3 separate regions of the Homo sapiens genome follow, and regions 2 and 3 are each linked to region 1. Evidence: fine-mapped expression QTL. A gene starts in region 1. Each other region holds a variant in brackets. All regions are shown on one strand. Distances are from middle to middle.

What was found. PIP is the estimated chance that this variant, and not a neighbour inherited with it, causes the effect.
Region 2: its variant is the best candidate, but not a certain one, in a credible set for the expression of PRKD2 in amygdala (GTEx, PIP 0.54).
Region 3: its variant is the best candidate, but not a certain one, in a credible set for the expression of PRKD2 in prefrontal cortex (BrainSeq, PIP 0.55).

Annotation. Positions count from the first base shown.
Region 1 is chr19:46,712,019-46,719,434 of GRCh38, reverse strand. It overlaps PRKD2 (protein kinase D2), which reads left to right and starts at 2,321. Exons shown (of 18, transcript NM_016457.5): 1 at 2,321-3,304; 2 at 5,434-5,572. The coding sequence starts at 3,065. It overlaps LOC107987269, which reads left to right. Exons shown (of 4, transcript XM_017027568.2): 1 at 1-789; 2 at 933-1,082; 3 at 1,459-1,636; 4 at 2,258-2,901. The coding sequence starts at 372. The coding sequence ends at 2,624. RefSeq lists enhancers at 1,026-1,075, 4,587-4,886 and silencers at 2,196-2,355, 2,376-2,425, 5,077-5,306.
Region 2 is chr19:46,671,010-46,678,425 of GRCh38, reverse strand. It overlaps PRKD2 (protein kinase D2), which reads left to right. Exons shown (of 18, transcript NM_016457.5): 16 at 1-30; 17 at 3,308-3,393; 18 at 3,691-4,110. The coding sequence ends at 3,903. DACT3-AS1 (DACT3 antisense RNA 1) reads right to left here. Exons shown (of 3, transcript NR_040042.1): 3 at 970-1,286. Among named protein-coding and RNA genes, the nearest start is that of DACT3, 14 kb to the right of the region's middle. The variant C/T (reference allele first, on the strand shown) is at 4,803.
Region 3 is chr19:46,681,417-46,688,832 of GRCh38, reverse strand. It overlaps PRKD2 (protein kinase D2), which reads left to right. Exons shown (of 18, transcript NM_016457.5): 15 at 7,085-7,183. It also overlaps the pseudogene RN7SL364P. Among named protein-coding and RNA genes, the nearest start is that of DACT3, 24 kb to the right of the region's middle. The variant TG/G (reference allele first, on the strand shown) is at 3,574.

The sequences.
Region 1 (7,416 bases):
GAGTTTGGAGAGAGGGGATATGATGGGTTGGGGTTTTGTGGTAGGGCAGCAGGGGCCGGAGACGGGCCCAGAGCTTGGGTGGGGTGTGGGTGGAGAGAAGTGGAGGCACTGGACCGAATCTCCTTGTGCCCTTTCTGTCCCTAAGTGCTCCCTCCCCAGGGGTAGAGCCCTGGGGAGCAGATACTATGATGACAGTCCAGCTGAAGCCTCAGCCCCGCCTGGGATGTGTGAGGGTGGTGGCGAGGCCAAAGGGCTGGTGCCCAGAGGACGTAAACCCCCTTCCTGTTCCCATCCCAGGCCCACAAGGAGCAGGGAGGGAAAAGGCTGCACCTGCCAGTGGAGGATGATGGCTTTGGGGCGCAGGCTCCTCCATGCTGGGAGGAGGTGCCGCAGGTGCCCGAGCCCTCGTGGCTCATGTCCTGATGCGTCCCTCCTTTCCCTTCTCAGTGGTCCACGTCTACTGTACTGAGTGCTTTACATGGCATTTCACTGGGTCCACAGCCTTAAAAAGAGGGAGCAGGTGTCCACATGCTCCAGATGAGACGGAGGGGACCGCTGCTCCTGTCTCGAGGAGGCTTCCACCACCTACCAGCCAGGCGTCCTCGGTAATCCTAGCACCTCTGCCACAGGGCACTAATGCCCAGTTCCTGGGTTGTAAAGGGCTGTGCCCCAGTCCCCCAGCAGGCCCCAGTGAACATACGAGAAAGGATGGAGGCCGCTGTCTGGACACTCAGGACATGGCAGCGTTTTGCTGGGACAGTCATCTGCCCTTCAGGAAAAAGGGTGCAGGTGGGCAGGAGGCCCTTAGATGACGCCAAGGGGAGCCTTCGTGGGCTCCACGTGGTGTGCTCCCTGCCCATCCCTCTGGGCTCAATGCAGTTCCCCAGGTGGTGGTTTGGGTTTTCACTCCAGCCTCAGACTTCCTTCCTCAGCCCCAGCCCCCGGATGTGGTGACAGAATCGATACTGTACCGACCTCAGCTACCCCCAACGGCCGTACACCAGGAAGAGGGGCTCTTCTGGCAGCCCCCATCCTCAGCCAGCCCTGCCATTTCCAGTCCTGCCAGCATCCCAGCCAGACAGGTGGCCCTTCTCTTAGAGCTCAAACCTAGGCCTTGACTTGTCAATCAAAGGGGTGGGTGGGGCAGCTTCCCTCAAGCAACTTCACTCTGGGATCTTGGGCAAGACGTTTTGCTTCTCTGAGGCTTCAGCTTATTCTGTGTAAACTAAATGGTAGCCACTATTTGATTATTAGCTGGGGAGGAGAGATCAAGCCTGACCCCTGTAGCGGCTGGAGTTTTACAGCAGGGCCCACCCAGCACCCAGTAGGTCCTCACAGATACTTGCTGGGTGACTGAATGGGTGTGCCCACCCATCAAAGCCTGAGTGCTGGAGGTGGCCACCCCTTTCCGCGTATTATCAGAGACAACCACCTCTTACTGAACTGCTGCGTTTCCAGGCACCAGTATACCATGGCATCGGCTCCCACCATCCCATGTGGGGTCAGTCCTATTACAGTCCCAACAGATGGAGGGACTGAGGCTCACAGAGAAGCCACTCACCCAAAGTCACATGGAGAGAAAGACACGCACACGTACTCCACATCCCCAGGAGACACACTCTGCATCTATGAAGTGGTATGGGTGTGCTGTCCTCCCTCGGGGCAGCCCCACACTATCCTAAGGCGGGGTTGGGGTGGGCGGGGGGATGGACCCTCCCCACCCATCCAGTTAGCGCCATGCACCTTGCCCACCATCGCTGGAGACAGACCTAAGGCGAGCCCCTTCCTACCCATCTGGAGGCCTCGGTCTTTCCATGTGTTAAATGGGCTGGGGCCGGGGGACGCTCTGCAGCACCCCCTTCCCTGGGCTGGGACGCGGCGGGGAGGGCAGGGGTGACGCTCGGAGAACAGAGAGGCCGAACCCAGAGAGCGGGCCGGGACCTGATACCGATTTCCCACCCGTCCCCTGCCATGGGCGCCGGACGCCTGCCGGAGAGGGCTCCCCTCCTTAAAGGGCCAGTGGCCTCCAAGCCCGACGCCTGCGACCGGCGGTGGGTGATAGTGTTTCCCCTCCCTGTCCAGCCGAGGGAAAAGTTAACTTTCCAGGCTTGGCTGTGTTCAGGGAAGGAACTGGTCTCGCCTGCCTGCCCTCCATCCCTCACACCATCCCTTGTCCCGGACCCTGGAGGCGGAGGTCCAGCCCCCAACTCGGAGGCCCCGGGCCCACCCTCCCCTTCCGCCCCCGGCCCCTCGGCAGGCTCCGCCCCTCTCTGACGTCGCCGAGGCCCGCGCCGATTGGTCGACTGCACTGTCGCTCCGGACACTTCCTCCTGGGCCGCCGCCGCCGCCGCCGACTTAAACTTTGGAGGGGGAAAAAGAGCTACTGGCGCCTGGCGACCCTCCCTGCCCCCCACCCAACCCCGCTCCGGCAACGCCCCCTTCCTCACGGCTCCCGACCGAACTTTTCTCCAACTTCTGCGACTCGTGAGATTCCCTTCTACCCACTCCGGCCCTCGGGACCCCTCTGCCCATCCCCTGGCCGGTCGGGTCCCTGCGAACCCCTTTATCTCTGGAATCCACTCGGTCCCCGACTCAGAGACTCCTGCCCTCCACCCCCAAGGTGAATTCCCCCGGGCCGCCTTCTGAGTGGGATCCTCTTCTTGGAGCACTGGATCCTGGGATTCCCTCTGCCCCCTTCTCAATCCCTCCTCTAGGGAAGGGGCCTTTGAATCGCGGGCTCTCCTGATCCCTGTGACCCCGACCTACTAGATTTCCTCTCAGGCTTCTTGGAATCTCAATCGCTGGGACCTCCAACCCACTACTTTTCTCCTTTCTGATCTTCTGGGAGCCCTGGATTCCGGGCCTCTGACCCACTATAGTGCCTTTCTCTCCTTCCCAGGACCCCGCCATCCTCAGGTCCCCTCCGCCTGCCAGATCTTTTCTCGGATCCCCGCTCTCCCACCACCTGCTCACGAGATCCCGCGGATCTAGAACCCAGGGTCCCCCGGGGCCCCCCGGCCGGGTCCCGGGTGGGCTCCAGGCGGCCGGTCCCCGGCCTCCCCCCATGGCCACCGCCCCCTCTTATCCCGCCGGGCTCCCTGGCTCTCCCGGGCCGGGGTCTCCTCCGCCCCCCGGCGGCCTAGAGCTGCAGTCGCCGCCACCGCTACTGCCCCAGATCCCGGCCCCGGGTTCCGGGGTCTCCTTTCACATCCAGATCGGGCTGACCCGCGAGTTCGTGCTGTTGCCCGCCGCCTCCGAGCTGGCTCATGTGAAGCAGCTGGCCTGTTCCATCGTGGACCAGAAGGTGAGGGCGCAGGCTCCCTGGATCCAGCTCGGGGAGAGGTTGAAGGAGGGGGCGCTGGCAGAGGGGTCTGGGGCCTGGTGTGCGGAAGAGGGAGGAAGGAGACCTGAGCTTTGGGTGATGGAGGGATAGGGGGCATTGCCCCCCTCCATTGCCCCTCTCCCCACCATCCCTTTGAGAGAGGACTGGGCAGGGGTGGGGTGCCCCAGAGGCCTCCCCAAATTTCATGTCCCTGCATGTCGTTGTTTTCTGCAGCAAACAGGGAGGAAGGGAGGGGCCAGCCAGGTGTAGAGAGGGGAGGAAGGGGCAGCAGATGTCGGCGGACCTCCACGTCCAGGCCCATCCCGGGCCTCCCATTTGGTGGAAACAGGAGAAATTGAACCCGGGCTGGCCATGGTGATCCGGTGACATGTGTGGGTGCAGGTGCTTGAGTTAGCTGCCAGGGGCAAGTGAGGTCTCGGAGCCCAATTCTGCCCTCCCCTAAGCCTGAGATATGTGTGGAGGGGCAGGCACTCCTACAGACCCTGGGGACTCTATTCCCTTTCCTAGTCACAGTGCTGTTAGCCTACTCTTAATTTTGGACACCAGGGTCCCCAGGGTGGGCAGCTGGGTGTTATGGCAAGAGGAAACCAGGTGGAACTCCACGTCTAAACCGTGAAATGTTAAAAGAATAGTGGGCTTCTGTGTTGGAGTACTGGACTGTAGAAATGTTAGAATATTAGAATCATAACTTGTTGGAATATGCATCCTAGGCAATTAAATTGCCCCCATGTTCGTGTTCAAATATTAGAATTCTAGGTTTGTGAAATAGTAAAACATTAAAATGCTGGAATATTAGATTCCTAGATTGTTGAATCCTAGAAAGTTAAAATGTTAGAATTTTAGAATGCTGGATGGATGAGGTCCTTGAATGCTAAAGAATTCAAAGAGCACAGTCCTAGCTTGTCAGACTCCTAGAATATTAAAATATTAGATTACCGCTTATTTAGGTTATTGAAATCCTAAAATGTATAGTGATACCAGGTAGGAATCTAGAATGTATAATTCTATAATGTGAGCATGTTGGAGTCCCAAAATATCCAAATTCCAGAATCTTTTCAGACTCCTGGAAATGAATCCTTTGGGCATCAGAGAAACGTGGGGAACTGGGCCAGCTCCCCCATTCTACAGACAAGGAAACTGAAGCTTAGAGAAAAACTTCCCAAGGGGTCAGGGCCAAGGCAGTCCTGGTCTTCTGTGGACTCTCTCTTAGCAGTGAGAACTGATAGGGTTTTGCCCACCAAATGCCTCAATCCCGCAGGCCCAGCTCACCACCCCAACTCAGCCCACTTCATGGGAAGCTGGTGGCAGTGGGGGTACGGGGGCAGATTGTCCCTTGGGTGAACTTCTTTGTCCAGTGCTCAAGTCCCCAGCCTGCCCCGCTCAGGCTTCACCCCAGTTTTATTTTTCTGCCAGGTCCAGGTGTGTTAGGGCCGCTTACCTTCCTTCCCGAGGCCCCACCGGGGCAGTTTCACTTTCTGTTCTACTAGGTTTCATTTCCTGCCCCCAGGCCCCCAAAGCTGAGGACCCAGACACCTGGGTCCTTTGAGCATTGGGTGGCAGGCGCCCTCCTTATCTCCAGCGCCCTCGAGTCCAAGTCCCCCGGCCCCCCCCCCCACTTTCCCAGGAGCCCCGAAAAGTCCTCCTTCCAGCTCGCCCCACCCCAGTGCTGGGCCTGGAGCCAGGTAACTGGGACAACAATAGACAGATCCAGGAAGGAAGCTGGGGGGCGGGTGTGTGAGCCTGGGGAGGAGGCACAGGGGAGGGAGTGTTCATTCAGCATCCCCTCCCACCTCCGCCAGGTTCCGGAAAATTCGAGGTGTCCACGCTCCCGGAGCCACTCTCCCTCCCACCCCAGCTCCCCCTTCCAGCCACCAAACCCACGCCGGCGCCCCCTCCCCGTACAATTGGGGCGCTGGCATCCTGCCCGGCTCGCGCTGGGGTTGGGAGGGGGCAGGCAGGAAGCGAGGGCCTGCGGGGTCTCTGCGTTTCCGGGGGAAACAGCCGGCCCTGCCCTGGGAGGGTCACAGTCCGCCCGCTGCTGAAGGCGGCTCTGAGCTTTTCCGTCGCCACATCCCTCTCCCGCCCCTCAGTTCCCTGAGTGTGGCTTCTACGGCCTTTACGACAAGATCCTGCTTTTCAAACATGACCCCACGTCGGCCAACCTCCTGCAGCTGGTGCGCTCGTCCGGAGACATCCAGGAGGGCGACCTGGTGGAGGTGGTGCTGTCGGGTGAGAGGTGGTGGCCGGCCTGGGGGCGGGGCCTCGGGTGGGGGCGGGGCATCTGGGGGAGGAGAGGGTAGGGGGAGTTAGAAGTCAGGAGAGGCCGGGTGTAGTGGCTCACGCCTGTGATCCCAGCACTTTGGGAGGCTGAGCTGGAGCTGGGGGGATCGCTTGAGCCCAGGAGTTCGAGATCAGCCTGGGCAACATAGTGAGATTCCATCTCTACCCCTTTCTCTCCCTCTGAAAAAAAAAAATAAGGAGAGTTGGGGGCTTCTGGAAGATGGTTACAGAGTGGGGTCATGAAGGCGCTCTTTAGGGACTGGTCTAAACTTTCATTTATGGATTAGGATGCTAGTGACACGCTTTGTACAGTTTGAAAATTCATTGAGCTGTGCACTTGTGATGTGCGGCCTTTCCTGAACATATGTTATACTTATTTATTTATAAAACTAGTCAAGTGCAGTAGTTAGAAGGGGGAAAAGAGGAGAAGAAGGAGTTGGATCTGTAACTGACTGTGTTATGCTTAAATATAAAGGTAAAAAATGGGCCAGCTGCAGTGGCTCACACCTGTAATCCCAGCAGTTTGGGAGGCTGAGGTGGGAGGATCGCTGGAGCCCAGGAGTTTGAGACCAGCCTGGGCAACATAAGGAGACCCCATCTCTTAAAAAAAAAAAAAAAAAAAAAAGTTAACCGGGCGAGGTGGCACACGTCTGTAGTCTCAGCTACTTGGGAGGCTGAGGTGGGAGGATTTCTTGAGCTTAGGAGTTTGAGGCTGCAGTGAGCCACGATCATGTCACTGCACTCCAGCCTGGGCAACAGAGAGAGACCCTATCTCTAAAAAAGAAAAAAAGTAGAAAAAGAAAAAAAAAAGTTATGATGTCCATGGCTCCTGCCACGAAAATGCTAAATTAAATCAGAATCTCTGCAAAGTGAGATGGAATCTGCACATCAGTATTTTTAAAAGCCCCCAGGTGATTTTCTAAGACACAGCCAGAAGCCAGTTCATCCACTCACTATTCCAGTAGTATAGATGGGCATGCTCTCAGCACCTTAGAGCAGTCTATGGCCCTTGGTCCCTCTTGAGGGTGGGGGCAGCTGCCTTTTTCATGGCTGCCTTCCCTGCTGCTCCGGCATACTGCAGTGCCCAGTGAAACCGGCTCAATGAATGAATGACAGAAGTCTGGATTTACACCTTTAGTGACCTTGTTCAGGCTTTAAGTACTCTTTCATATCATAAGCTGGCCTCACTTGAATTTTTATCTTCATTGTTGTCTCTCCCCTAAACCTGAGTTTTGTTTTGTTTTTGTCATTTTTATTATTTTTTGTTTTTTTAGACGGAGTCTCGCTCTGTCACCCAGGCTGGAGTGCAGTGGCGCAAACTCAGCTTGCTGCAACCTCTGCCTCCTGGGTTCAAGCGATTCTCCTGCCTCAGCCTCCCGAGTAGCTGGGATTACAGGCGCCTGCTACCACACGTGGCTAATTTTTGTATTTTTAGTAGAGACGGGATTTCACCTTGTTGGCCAGGCTGGTCTCGAACTGCTGATCTTAAGTGATCTGCCCACCTCAGCCTCCCAAAGTGCTGCGATTACAGGTGTGAGCCACCGCTCCCGGCCCTGTTATTTTGTTTTGAGGCAGGGTCTTGTTCTGTCACCCAGGCTGGAATGCAGTGGCATGACCACCACTCACTGCAGCCTCTACCTCCCAGACTGAAGCAATCATCCCGCCTCAGCCTCCTGAGGTGGCTGGACTATAGGCATTACAGGCATGCACCACCACACTGGGCTTTTTTTTTTTTTCTTTTTTTTAGACAGAATCTTACTCTGTCACCCAGGCTGGAGTGCCGTGGCATGATC
Region 2 (7,416 bases), 41 kb after region 1:
CCAGCCCCTGGAGCCACATCTCAGCTGGAGGTGCCTGGGGCCCGCCTACCCCATGGGCGGGTGGGTTGTGGGGTGGGGCTGGAGAAGTGGGCGGAGCCATGAGAGGGGGGTGGACCCGGAAACAGCCTGGCACCTTGGGGGTGGAGCCCAGTGCTGGGGCGGGCCTACTGGAGGGATGTGGCTACAGGAGGAGCCGTCCTGTAAAAGATGGGCTGGGACTCAGGCCTAGACTAGGTTACTTGGGCTGGAAACCAAGTGCCCCAGAAGCGCTGAGGACACTTGGAACCTTAGGGGGGCTGAGTGAGACTTGGCTTGTCTAGGGTGGGACCAGGAAAGGGACTGGACTTGAGGGTACCAAAGGGCTGCGGTGACCAGGAGAAGGGGCTGAGCCTCCCAAGGCATTGGCTGGGACCTGGAGCCTTTGGGTTTACGACCCCAAAAGGGTCAGCCTTGCAAAAAGGAGGCACCGGTGGGTAGGGTTGAGAAACAAGGGCATGGCTACTTTGCTGTGTACTGGGGCCGTGACTTGGGTGAAGATGGGCCTGAAGCCTGGGGTCGGTTCAGTGACCAAGGGAGCCAGTCTAGGGACGTGGCCGTGGAGGGTTTCCGAAGAGGTCCAGGAACAGGGCTGACCCTGAGTCCTGGAAGCTGGGAGTGGATGGGAGTGGGGAGGAGAAGGGAGCCAGGACTGAGGCAGACATTGCACTCTGCATTCTGGGGCTTTGGTGTTGTGGCTGGGCCTGATGAAGTGGCACCGGGCCTGGTGACTTGAACCTACTTGGGAATGGGTCTGTAACTTTCCCTGCTTGGAAAAGTTAAGTCCTAAGGCCTGGAGCTTTGAGGCTGGGTGTGGGATGGCATGTTTAGAGGGCCAGAGGCAGGGCTAAGATACTGGGGTGTGTCAGAAGCCAGGAGAACAAGGGACCTGTGTTGGAGCCAGGGAGCTCAGGAAGACAGATGGAGTATGGGAAGGGGGGGGATCATTCATTCATTTATTTATAACCATTTATTCAACAAGTACATTCATGTATTTGTAACCATTGATTCAACATGTTGAGTGCCCACGATGTGCCAGGCATTGACTGTTCCAGCTCTGGGAATACTGTGATGACTTGGACAGAAGGGGTCAGGTGCAGGGTAGCTCATTGAGTGGTCCGCGAAGGGTGGAAAGGGGAAGGGTCCTCTCTGGAGGGTGCGGCTTCATGGAGCAGGTGGAGCAGGGTGACACGGAGGTTGCTCGGTGCAGGACAAGACAAGGTCTTGGTGGTGGTCTAAGAGCATGGGCCCTAAGCAGTGAGAATGTGGATTGACTTGAGTCCTGGAGTAATATTGGGGGTGCTCAACACTGGCTTTTTTTTTTTTTTTGAGGTGGGGTCTCGCTCTTTCACCCACGCTGGAGTGCAGTGGCGTGATCTCGGCTCACTGCAACCTCCACCTCTTGGGTTCAAGGGATTCTCCTGCCTCAGCCTCCCGAGTAACTGGGATTACAGGCACACAGCACCATGCCTGGCTCATGTTTTATATTTTTAGTAGAGACAGGGTTTCGCCATGTTAGCCAGGCTGGTCTTGAACTCCTGACCTCAAGTTATTTGCCCGCTTCAGCCTCCCAAAGTGCTGGGATTGCAGGCATAAGCCATCACACCCCGCCAGCATTGTCTTTTGAGACCCACTCAGAAGTCCCTCAGTAAAAGTGCATCGAGTGTGCACAAGTGAATTTAAGTGTGGTTGCACCTGTGTGAGGATCACAGAATCCTGTGGGTGTTGACGGGAGCAGGGTGCCTGTGTGCACCAGGCCTCTCCTCGGATGGGTTCATACAGTGAAGCCTTGTCCTTCATGGCTTCCCATCAAGGAGAGAGCCTCGGATGAGTGCTGGCTTGTCTTGAAGCTTGACATTCGCTAGTCCTCTTTTTCACAATGAACAGGCCTATCTCTGAGCCTTCTGCAGGCAATGGTGACTAACTACCATCTGATGACATTTTGTTTTGTTTTGTTTTGTTTTGAGACGGAGTTTCGCTTTTGTCACCCGGGCTGGAGTGCAGTGGCACGATCTTGGCTCACTGCAACCTCTGCCTCCTGAGTTCAAGCGATTCTGCCTCAGCCTCCTGAGTAGCTGGGACTACAGGCATGCGCTACCATGCCCAGCTAATTTTTTGTATTTTTAGTAGAGACGGGGTTTCCGTGTTGGCCAGGCTTGTCTCGAACTCCTGACCTCGGGTGATCCACCCGCCTCGGCCTCCCAAAGTGTTGGGATTACAGGCATGAGCCACCGCGCCCAGCCTGATGACATAGATGCTCCCTGATTTGCACTGGGGTTAGATAAACCTGATAAACCCATTGCCCATTGTAAATTGAAAATATCATAAGTTGGTCAGGCGCAGTGGCTGAAGCCCATAATCCCAGCACCTTGGGAGGCCAAGGTAGGCAGATTGCTTGAGCCCAGGAGTTCAAGACCAGCCTGGGCAATGTATCTCTACAAAAAATACAAAAATTAGCCGGCCATAGTGACAGGTGCTTGTAGTCCCAGCTGGCTGCTCAGGAGGCTAAGGCAGGAGAATCAATTAAGCTGGGGAGGTGGAGGCTTCAGTGAGCATTGATCACGCCACTGCACTTCAGCTTGGGTAACAATGAGACCCTGTCTCAAAAAAAAAAAAGGAAGTATTGTAGGTTGAAAATCCATTTAGGCCGGGCGCAGTGGCTCATGCCTGTAATCCCAACAATTTGGGAGGCCAAGGCAGGCGGATTGCTTGAGGTCAGGAGTTAGAGACCAGCCTGGCCAATATGGTGAAACCCCATCTCTACTAAAAATACAAAAAGTTAGCAGGACATGGTGACACACACCTGTATTCCTAGCTACTTGGGAGGCTGAGGCAGGAGAATCACATGAACCCGGGAGGCGGAGGTTGCAGTGAGCCAAGATCGTGCCATTGCACTCCAGCCTGGGCGACAGAGCGAGACTCTGTCTCAATAAATAAATAAGTAAAAATAAAAAGAATAGTACAGGTGTAATTGTATGTACCTGTATATGACAAAAAGAAAAAAAAAGGTGACATAGGGGAATGGGGAAATTGAAGTAGAGAACAGGTGAAGAGAGGGAGCTGGTGTGAACATGCATGGGCAGGAGGAGACAAATTTGTAATGTAATGAGGAAATGGGTGGGTGAGTGATTGGCACAGGTGAGGCTTCTGAGCCACCTGAGCTGGTGCAGAAGGAAGGTGTTGATGGCAGGCAGGTAGGCTAGGGGGTGCCTATTGGAGGAGGAGTGACCCTTGACCTGTAGGGCTTGACCTGTTTCTCTTTCCTGTGCAGCCATTGACCTCATCAACAACCTGCTGCAGGTGAAGATGCGCAAACGCTACAGCGTGGACAAATCTCTCAGCCACCCCTGGTTACAGGTGATGCAGGGGGCAGGGCTGGCCCATTGGCTGGATTGGAGGAAGGGGTGGGAGTAGATCGCTTATTGGCTAGGCAGGTTGTGAAGGATGTAGGTTTCCTTGGGTCTGGAATGTGGCTAGGCCTCCCATTGGCTGGGTGCAGGAAGAGGGGGTGGAGCTAAATGTCTACTGGCTGGGTGGGTTGCAGAGGGTATGGCTTCACCTTCATTGGTACCCAGCTCTCAGTGGCAAACCAGAGGATATCCAGGCACTGCTCCAATGCAGACCCCAAGCTAACCCCAGTTCTCTCGGGCCCAGGAGTACCAGACGTGGCTGGACCTCCGAGAGCTGGAGGGGAAGATGGGAGAGCGATACATCACGCATGAGAGTGACGACGCGCGCTGGGAGCAGTTTGCAGCAGAGCATCCGCTGCCTGGGTCTGGGCTGCCCACGGACAGGGATCTCGGTGGGGCCTGTCCACCACAGGACCACGACATGCAGGGGCTGGCGGAGCGCATCAGTGTTCTCTGAGGTCCTGTGCCCTCGTCCAGCTGCTGCCCTCCACAGCGGTTCTTCACAGGATCCCAGCAATGAACTGTTCTAGGGAAAGTGGCTTCCTGCCCAAACTGGATGGGACACGTGGGGAGTGGGGTGGGGGGAGCTATTTCCAAGGCCCCTCCCTGTTTCCCCAGCAATTAAAACGGACTCATCTCTGGCCCCATGGCCTTGATCTCAGCACACGGCACTCTCGAATCATTACTCTGTTGTACCAACATGGAGTTCATCTGGAAGGAGGACTGCCTGAAAAGAGGAAGGATGGAAGGGGTGGGGAGAGAGGACTGATGGGAGAGGAGTCTTGGAAGGAGGACGAGCTGGGGTAGAAAATATACAGGAAGAGTGCCAGGAGAGAAGATGAGAAGGGAGAGGGAGGAGTAATGGAGGAGGAGTTGGAAACTGGGGAGAGATGGAAGGAATGTGACTGGAGGGTAGAGAACTTGGAGAAAAAGTAATCTCATGGTTTGTGATGACTGATTTTTTATTTGGTGGTGGTGTTACTACTAATCACAACTATTAATTCAGGCTGGGTGTGGTGGCTCATGCCTATAATCCCAGCAATTTGGGAGGCCGAGGCAGGCAGATCCCTTAGATCTCAGGAGTTTGAGAGCAGCCTGGCCAACGTGGTGAAACTCCCTTTCTACAAAAAGTTCAAAAATTAGCCAAGTGTGGTGGCTTGCACCTGTGGTCCCAGCTACTTGGAGGTTGAGGCTAGAGGATCGCTTGAGCCCAGGAAGCAGAGATTGCAGTGAGCCAAGATCACACACCACTGCACTCTAGCCTGGGCAAGAGAGTGAGACCCTGTCTCAAAAGTCAAATAATAAAATGCAGTTAGCCCAAGTCTGATCCATACTAGAAAACTGATACGTAACATT[C/T]AGTATTTTATTTTATGTTGATGTGATGACTTCTCTATCTATGAAATAGAGAAGTATATATTCACTCATTCCTTTGTGTCACTGAGCTGGGTGATGCTGGGGACACAGTGGTGACTGAGACAGCCAAGGACTGCCCTGCCAGTAGAGAGACATACCTGCCCCTGGACAGTGATGACCCAGAACGGGAAGGGCTGGACTGGGGGAGTTTGGGAGGCTTGGGCAGCCTAGAATGAGCTCAGGGGTCAGAGAGAGTGGGGAATCAGAGGTGACCTCTTAGGCTTCATCTTGGCCTTGAAAGACTGAAGGCAGAGGGAATGAACTGGAGGGAACACGTATCCACCTCTCTCTACCTTTGACTCCAGCCCTCCACCTCCCCAGTTCTCCAGTAACACCCTAACACATGGTCCTCCACCTTCCACAGCTGAAGGTGAACGATCCGAGCATGGACCTGAACAAGTTTTCTTCAGACTTTCAGAACGCTCTGACTTACGTGCTGCAAAGACCTATCTGAAAGCTGGGCATGGTGGCGGGTGACTGTATTCCCAGCTACTTAAGCGGCTGAGGTGGGAGGATCGCTGGAGTCCAGGAGTTCGAGTCCAGTTTGGGCAACACAGCCTTAAAAAACCCAGGAAAACAGGAAAGAATTTAGTAGCCAATTTAGGCTAATACTGGGAGCTTACTCTGGGATTTTCCAATTTGATTTGTATCACCTTGTCCATCTGATGGTTCCAGAGCTGCAGCTTTTTTTTTTTTTCCTGAGGCAGGGTCTCTGTTTCCCAGGCTGGAGTGCAGTGGCATGAACACAGCTCACTGCAGCCTTGACCTTCTGGGCTCAAGTGATCCTCCCACCTCAGCCTCCTGAGTAGCTAGAACTACAGGCACATGCCACCATGCCCAGCTAATTTTTTGGATTTTTTGCAGAGGTTTTACCATGTTGCCCAGGCTGGTCTCAAACTCCTGGGCTCAAGCGATCTGCCTGCCTAGGCCTCCCAAAGTGCTGGGATTACATGCATGAGCCACTGCGCCTGGCCAAAATGCAGCTCTTTGATTTGAAAATGCTAAACGAGCCTCAGTAAATGAAGGTATCCAAAGGAGCAGTATACCTCTGAGGCATAGTTGCTAAGACTATTGGGGAAAGGCTCTTAGACTCCATCCCCAGTGCCTATCCCTCTGTTTAGTCTAAGGTCCAGAAGTGTAGGCAACATAGAGATGAATCCATCTCCCGTGACAGACCCAGGCTAGAAAATGTATGGAAAAGACTATCACCCCTGATCTGCTTCTGTCTTGGCCACTAGTTAATATCCAGAGACCAGAAATGAGAGACGTGATTCAAAAACATTCCTCAATTATAGAATTCCAGGAGATAGTGTATATCATGAGGATGCCATGAAAGATAAAATCAAGGCCGGGCGCAGTGGCTCACGCCTGTAATCTCAGCACTTTGAGTGCTGAGGTGGGTGGATCATCTGAGGTCAGGAGTTTGAGACCAGCCTGATCAACATGGAGAAACCCCGTCTCTACTAAAAATACAAAATTAGCCGGGCATGGTGGCACATGCCTGTAATCCCAGCTACTCGGGAGGTTGAGGCAGGAGAATCGCTTGAATCTGGGAGGCGGAGGTTGCGGTGAGCTGAGATCGTGCCACTGCACTCCAGCCTGGGCAACAAGAGCGAAACTCTGTCTCAAAAAAAAAAAAAAAAATCAAATCCATACAATGAAAACTTAGGGCCCTATAACTTAAATCATTAGAGACAAAAAGTTTATCCTATCAGGACCACTGGAATCACAAAACCTAATTTTGTTTGTTAGAGACAGGGTCTTGCTCTATCACCCAGGCTTCTGTGCAGTGGTATGATCGTAGCTCACTGCAGCCTCAAACTACAGGGTTCAAGCCATCCTCCCCCTCAGCCTCTTGAGTAGCTGGGACTACAGGCATGAGCCACCACACCTCGCTAATTTTTTGTTTTTTATGTAGTTTTTAATTTTTTTATTATTTTATTATTTTTTGAGATGGAATCTTGCTCTGTTGCCCAGGCCAAAGTGCAGTGGCATGATCACAGCTCACTGCAGCCTCAACCTCCTGGGCTCAAGTGATCTTCCCACCTCAGCCTCCCAAGTAGCTAAGACTACAGGCACATGCCACCACGCCCAGCTAATTTTTGTATTTTTAGTAGAGAAGGGGTTTTGCCATGTTGGCCAGGCTGGTCTCGAACTCCTGACCTCAAGTGATCTGCCCACCTCGGCCTCCCAAAGTGCTGGGATTACAGGCATGAACCACCGTGCCCGGGCATGTTTTTTATTTGTTATAGAGATGGGGTCTCACTATGTTGCCGAGGCTGGTCTTGAACTCCTGGGGTTGAACGATCCTCCACCTCTCAAAAGTGCTGGGATTACAGGTGTGGGCCACTGCACTCAACCTCAAAACCTAATGTTGATAGAGACACTTGTATATACTGTAAAGAAAAGGGACATTGGACTTGACACTATTTAGCTTTGAAATGCAAAAGGAATTTGAGTCTAAGATTCAGTCTCCCAGTGACTCACTTCCAGCCAACTTTCTCCTCTGTGTCTATAAGGATTCCTTAACCTTCAGGGGGAAATGACCATCAATCCC
Region 3 (7,416 bases), 31 kb after region 1:
ACTCCAGCCTGGGCAACATAGCGAGACCCCGCCTCTAAAAAGAAAGAAAGAAAAAAGAAAAATAATAGTGACAATAACAATTAAAAATAAAGAGTATGCCAGGCGCGGTGGCTCACGCCTGTAATCCCAACACTTTGGGAGGCCAAGGCGGGTGGATCACCTGAGGTCAGGAGTTTGAGACCAGCCTGGCCAACATGGTGAAACCCTGTCTCTACTAAAAATACAAAAATTAGCTGAGCATGGTGGCAGGCACCTGTAATCATAGCTACTTGGGAGGCTGAGGCAGGAGAATCCCTTGAGCCCAGGAGGCAGAGGTTACAGTGAGCTGAGATCGTGCCATTGTACTCCAGCCTGGGGGACAAGAGTGAAACTTCGTCTCAAAAAAAAAAATAATAATAATAATAATAATAAAGAGTAATCATAATAATAGAAAAAAATAGACTAGCGGTAATGATAGCTATTTTTATTATAAAAAATAAATGATCAGTCAGGCTCCCTGGACCTGACTTGACTCATCTAGAAAAAAGGGGAGTCAGGCATGGTGGGGTACACCTGTAATCCCAGCTACTCAGGAAGCTAAGGCCAGAGGATTGCTTAAGCCCAGGAGTTTGAGCCAGCCTGGGCAACATAGCAAGAGCCCATCTCAAAAACAGGCTGGCTCATGCCCGTAATCCCAGCGCTTTGGGAGGCCAAGGCAAGAGGATCGCTTGAAGCCAGGAGTTGGAGACCAGCCTAGGCGACATAGTGAGATCCCACCTCTACAAAAAGTAAAAAAAAAAATAGAAAACCTAGCTGGATGTGGTGCCTGGTAGCACATGTCTGTAGTCCTAGCTGCTTGGGAGGAAGGGAGTGGAGAGGCTCTCTTGAACCTAGGTGGTTGAGGCTGCAGTGAGCTATGACCGTGCCACTGCACTCCAGCCTGGGTGACAGAGCGAGACCGTGTCTCAAAACCAAACAATAGAAAAAACGGGCAAGCAGCCCTTTTTCTCTCATTCATTCATTCAGTTGGTCAACAAACACTCCCTAGTCCCTGCTCTGTGCTTGGTCCCTTGCTGGTCAGTGTTGAGGACACAGGGATGACCAATACAGCCCCATTCTTAGACAGTGATAGCTCAGGTGAGCAGGGCTAGGACAAGGGAGGCTGATAATGGTGATGATAAATAATGTGGTCACTAACATTTATTGAGCACTTACTATGTGCCAAGCACTCTTCAAACTCATTTAATCTTCATAGTAACCTGTGCAGTAGGTGCTATTATTATCAATCCCCTTTTATGGTTGAAGAAACTGAGGGTCAGAGACATCAAATATCTTGTCCAGGGTCACATAGCTGGTGGGATTTGAACCTAGGATCTTTGCTTTTAACTAGTGATGTCAAACTCATTTGTGTTACATTCAAACAGATTTTCCTTGTGTGCCTGTGCTTTTTGTTTGTTTTTTTGAGACAGGGTCTCGCTCTGTCACCCGAGCTGGAGTGCAGTGGTACAATCATGGCTCACTGCAGCCTTGACCTCCCGGGTTCAAGCAATTCTCCTGCCTCAGCCTCCTGAGTAGCTGAGACAACAGGCATCAGCCATCACACCCAGCTAATTTTTATAAAGACATTTTTATAAAGACTTGCTATGTTGCCCAGGCTGGTCTTCAACTCCTGGGCTCAAGTGATCCTCCTGACTCGGCCTCAGCCTCGCAAAGTTCTGGGATTACAGGTGTGAGCCACTGTGCCCGGCCTCTGTTCTGCGTTTCTTTTTTTTTGGTGGAGGTGCACATTAGATTCTTATCACTTATATTGTTCAATGGTTTTATCCCAGTGTTTGCCTCTTTATTTTATATTTAGTTTTTATTTACCATAGGGTTTTATTTATTTTATTTTTTATTTTTTTTTGAGACGGAGTCTTGCTCTATTGCCCAGGCTGGAGTGCAGTGGCACCATCTCGGCTCACTGCAAGCTCCGCCTCCCAGGTTCACACCATTCTCCTACCTCAGCCTCCCAAGTAGCTGGGACTACAGGTGCCCACCACCACGCCCGGCTAATTTTTTGTATTTTCAGTAGAGACAGGGTCTCACTGTGTTAACCAGGATGGTCTCGATCTCCTGACCTCGTGATCCACCCGCCTCGGCCTCCCAAAGTGCTGGGATTACAGGTGTGAGCCACCGCGCCTGGCCTATTTTATTTTTTTTTTTGAGACAGGGTCTCATTTTGTCACCCAGGCTGGAGTGCAGTGGTGTAATCATAGTTCACTGCAGCCTCAAACTCCTAGGCTGAAGCAATTCTCCTATCTCAGCCTCCTGAGTTAACTGGAACCACAGGCATGAGCCACCACGTCCAGCTAATTTTTTTTTTTTTTTTTTTTAATGTTTTTGTAGAGACAAGGTCTCGCCATGTTGCCCAGGCTGGTCTTGAACTCCTGGGCTCGAGCGATCCTCCCATCTCAGTCTCCTGAGTTAGCTGGAACCACAGGCATGAGCCATTACACCTGGCTAATTTTTTTTTATGTTTTTGTAGAGACAGGGTCTTGCCATGTTGGGTCTCGAACTCCTGGGCTTAAGTGGTCCTCTTGCTGCAGCCTCCCAAAGTTCTGGGTTACAGGCATGAGCCACTGCGTCCAGCCGGCCATAGAGTGGAACTTTTACGATGTTAAATATCCCCTTGTGTGGTTTCTGTGTTTCACATCCTTCCTAGAAAGGCTTCCTTCTGGTGGGTGCCTTGCCTTCTTCTGAGACATCTCTGTGGGTCTCAGAGCCATCGTTGCTGTGTTCCCTTTACCCTGGCCCAGCACCCTTATCCTCTCAGGCAGTGTGCCTGTGTTTGTCAGGCTGGCTTATGGGGTGGGGACAGAAACCCACTGATGCACCCTCATCCAGACTTTATTATTTATGTATTTTTGAGACAGAGTCTCGCTTTGTTGCCCAGGCTGGAGCGCAGTGACACGATCTCGGCTCACTGCACCCTCTGCCCCCTGGGTTCAGGTGATTCTCCTACCTCAGCCTCCCGAGTAGCTGGGATTATAGGTGTGTGCCACCATGCCTGGCTAATTTTTGTAATTTTAGTAGAGATGGGGTTTCATCATGTTGCCCAGGCCAGTCTCAAACTCCTGACCTCAAGTCATCTGCCTGCCTCAGCCTCCTGAAGTGCTGGGATTACAGGCATGAGCCATCGTGCCCGGCCACATCCAGACTTCAGGTGTGGAAAGGAATCATGGTTCTCACAGGTGGCTGCTTTCAGCAGCTGAGGGGGTTTCTCTTTCTGGCCTTCATCTCTTCCTCTCTTTTTGCCTGCTCGCTCTTCTTTCTCTCTCTCTCTCTCTCTGCAGATTTCTGCTTTCTGGGCTCTTGCCTGCCCCACACCTAAGCCCTGTGCTAAGCCCTTTACCTCCTGAGCTTATGTAGGCCTCACCACCATCCTAGGAGGTAGGTATTGTTATAAACCCCATTTTATAGATGAGGAAACTGAGGCTCAGGGAGATAGCAGTCTCCCTCGAGGTCACAGCCAAGTAGCTTTCCAGCCAAGATTTGAGTCTGGATCTATCTAGCTTCCAACCTGCCCTCTTTCTTTTCTTTTTTTTTTTTTTTTTT[TG/G]AGACGAAGTCTCACTCTGTCACCCAGGCTGGAGTGCAATAGTACAGTCTCAGCTCACTGCAACCTCTGCCTCCCAGGTTCAAACAATTGTCCCACCTCAGCCTCCTGAGTAGCTGGGACTACAGGTGCGTCCCAGTACACCGGGCTAATTTTTGTATTTTTAGTAGAGACGGGGTTTCACTATGTTGGCCAGGCTAGTCTTGAACTTCTGACCTCGTGATCCACCCGCCTCAGCCTCCCAAAATGCTGGGATTACAGGCGTGAGCCACCATATCCGGCCAATGTTTTTTTTTTTTGAGATGGAGTCTCGCTCTGTTGCCCAGGCTGGAGTGCAGTGGCGCTATCTCAGCTCACTGCAACCTCTGCCTCCCAGGTTCAAATGATTCTCCTGCCTCAGCCTCCTGAGTAGCTGGGAACACAGGCACACGCCACCATTCCTGGCTGATTTTTGTATTTTTAGTAGAGATGGGGTTTCACCATGTCGATCAGGCTGGTCTTGAACTTTTGATCTCGTGATCTGCCCGCCTCAGCCTCCCAAAGTGCTGGGATTACAGGCGTAAGCCACCGTGCCCGGCCTAACCTGCCCTCTTTGTTCACATGAACTGGGAGAAAATCAACTGACAAAATCTGGAAATGGGCGGGGCGAGGTGGCTCACGCCTGTCATCCTAGAACTTTGGGAGGCCAAGGCAGATGGATCACCTGAGGTCAGGAGTTTTGAGACCAGCCTGGCCAACATGGTGAAATCCCATCTTTACTAATAATACAAAAATTAGCCAGGTGTGGTGGCATTCACCTGTAATCCCAGCTACTGGGGAGGCTGAGGCACAAGAATTGCTTGAACCTGGGAGGTGGAATTTGTGGTGAGTCGAGGTCATGCCGTTGCACTCCAGCGTGGGCAACAGAGTGAGACTCCATCTCAAAAAAACAATCTGGAGATGACATATACAACACATGCATCTTTCCAGCTTGGTCTCCCAGTCTGTAGAATGAGGAGGTTGGTCAGGCATGGTGGGTCGTGCCTATTATCTCAAGGTTTGGGTAGCTGAGGTGGGAAGATCATTTGAGGCCAGGAGTTTAAGACCAGCCTGGGCAACATAGCGAGATGCCATCTCTACAAAAAGATTTTTTTAAAAAAGAAAACAATCAGAATAAACACAAGTATTTAAACTCTGAGACAGATACACAAGTATTTAAACTCCGAGACAGATAATAATTGCAGTTGTACAATTGCTTCTGGTGTACTTGGCATTTTGAGTTACAGAGAATCAAGAAATATGATTCTCACAGATGAATGGTTACAAATGGTAATTTTTTTTTTAATCAGCTCACCTTATCATAGGAACAGATACAGCAGGAGAAGCTTTATTTAAGAGACACAAACAAATATATTTACCAACAAGCCATCACAAAAATAATAACTAATAACAACAACAGTAACAGCTAACATACAGTGGTTAGCTATCCTAAGCGTTTTACATGCATCTTTAGATATGCTTTAAACCTTATAGCAACCTGTAAGGTTGGTACTCTTTTTTTTTCTGAGATGGCATCTCACTCTGTCGCCCAGGCTGGAGTGCAATGGCGCGATGTCGACTCACTGCAACCTCCACCTCTCCAGTTCAAGCGATTTTCCTGCCTCAGCCTCCCGAGTAGCTGGGACTACAGGCGCCCACCACCACGCCTAATTTTTGTATTTTTAATAGAGGCAGGGTTTTGCTATGTTGGCCAGGATGGTGTCTAACTCCTGACCTCAGGTGATCCACCTGCCTCAGCCTTCCAAAGTGCTGAGATTACAGGCATGAGTCACCATGCCCAGCCAAAGTTTTTTGTAAGGATGAAAAATATTTTTTTTAAAAATGAAATCAGGCTGGGCACAGTGGCTCACGCCTATAATCCCAGCACTTTGGGAGGCCAAGGTTGGTGGATCACGAGGTCAGGAGTTCAAGACCAGCCTGACCAACATGATGAAACCCCGTCTCTACTAAAAATACAAAAATTAGCCGGGCATGGTGGTGTGTGCCTGTAATCCCAGCTGCTCAGGAGGCTGAGGCAGGAGAATCAGGAGGCCTTCTCAAAAAAAAAAAAAAAAAAGGAATCAAAGCCCGACATGGTGGTGGTGGCACATGCCTGTAGTCCTAGCTATTTGGGAGACTGAGGCTGGAGGATCACTTAACCCCAGGAGTTTGAGGCTGTAGAATGATACTGCACTTCAGCCTGGGTGACAGAGGGAGACTCCATCTCTTCAAAAAAAAAATGGGTGAGGTGGGGTGGCTCACGCCTGTTATCCAAGCACTTTGGGAGGCTGAGGTGGGTGGATCACTTGAGTGCAGGAGTTTGAGACCAGCCTGGGCAACATGGTGAGACACTGTCTCTACAAATACAAAAATTAGTCAGGTGTGATGGTGTGTGCCTATAATCCCAGTTACTAGGGAGGTTGAGGTGGGAGGATGGATTTAGCCTGGGAGGTCGAGGTGCAGTGAGCTGTGATCCCGCCTCTGTGCTCTGGCCTGAGTGACAGAGCAAGACTCTGTCTCAAAAAAAAAAAAAAAAAAAAAATAGAATCACATAGTTGGATCTTGGAAATGCCTGCTCTGTCAGTAGCATTCAGGAGTTTACCACATGCTAGAAGATCTTGGGATCTTCACAGCCCCACTCATCTAGCCCAGACTTTCTAGTTTACATTTAACTCTTATCTCTCAGATGTAAATGGTTCTATGATTCTGAGATTCTTTGGTGCTCCAGTGCCTCCTGTTTCCCTGGCTGGGGTGTCTGCAGGGGTGTGTAGGAAGGCATGGATGGGGCCAGGCGCAGTGGCTCACTCACGCCTGTAATCCCAGCATTTTGGGAGGCCAAGGTGGGTGGATCACTTGAGTCCAGGAGTTTGAGACCAGCCTGGTCAACATGGTGAAACCCTGTCTCTACTAAAAATAAAAGAAAAAATTATCAGAGCAAGTCTGGGCCCGGTGGCTCACGCCTGTAATCCCAGCACTTTGGGAGGCCGAGGTGGGGAAATCACGAGGTCAGGAGTTTGAGACCAGCCTGGCCAACATGGTGAAACCCCATCTCTACTAAAAATAGAAAAAATTAGCTGGGCATAGTGGCCAGCGCCTGTAATCCCAGCTACTCGGGAGGCTGAGGCAGGAGACTCACTTGAGCCCTGGAGGTAGAGGTTGCAGTGAGCCGAGATCGTGCCACTGCACTCCAGCCCAGGCGACAGAGTGAGACTCCGCCTCAAAAAGAAAAAAAAAAATTAGCTGGGCATGGTGGTGCACGCCTGTAGTCCCAGCTACTTGGGAGGCTGAGGCAGGAGAATCACTTGAACCCAGGAGGTAGGGGTTGCAGTGAGCTGAGATCATGCCACTGCACTTCCAGCCTGGGCTACAGAGCGAGACTCTGTCTCAAAAAAAAAAAAAAAAAAGTATGGATGGGTTTGGAGGGCTGGCTGCTGAGGTTGGGATTTGGCTGAGTACCTATCTACCTTTCTTACTGGGCCCATCTGCTCCCCTCAGATCCTGGTGGCTTTGAGACACCTTCACTTCAAGAACATTGTCCACTGTGACTTGAAACCAGAAAACGTGTTGCTGGCATCAGCAGACCCATTTCCTCAGGTCAGTTATGTCCCCTCCTGATTTGGGGAAATCCAGGCAACACTGATGGCCGGGGTGGGGGTGGGGAAGGGGATTATACTAATCAAGATGTGGGGGCGAGGCACAGTGGCTCTTGCCTGTAATCAGCATTTTGAGAGGCTGAGGCAGGAGGATCATTTGAGCCCAAGAGTTTGAGACCAGCCTGGGCAACATAGCGAGACCTCATCTATACAAAAAATGAAAAAAAAAATAGC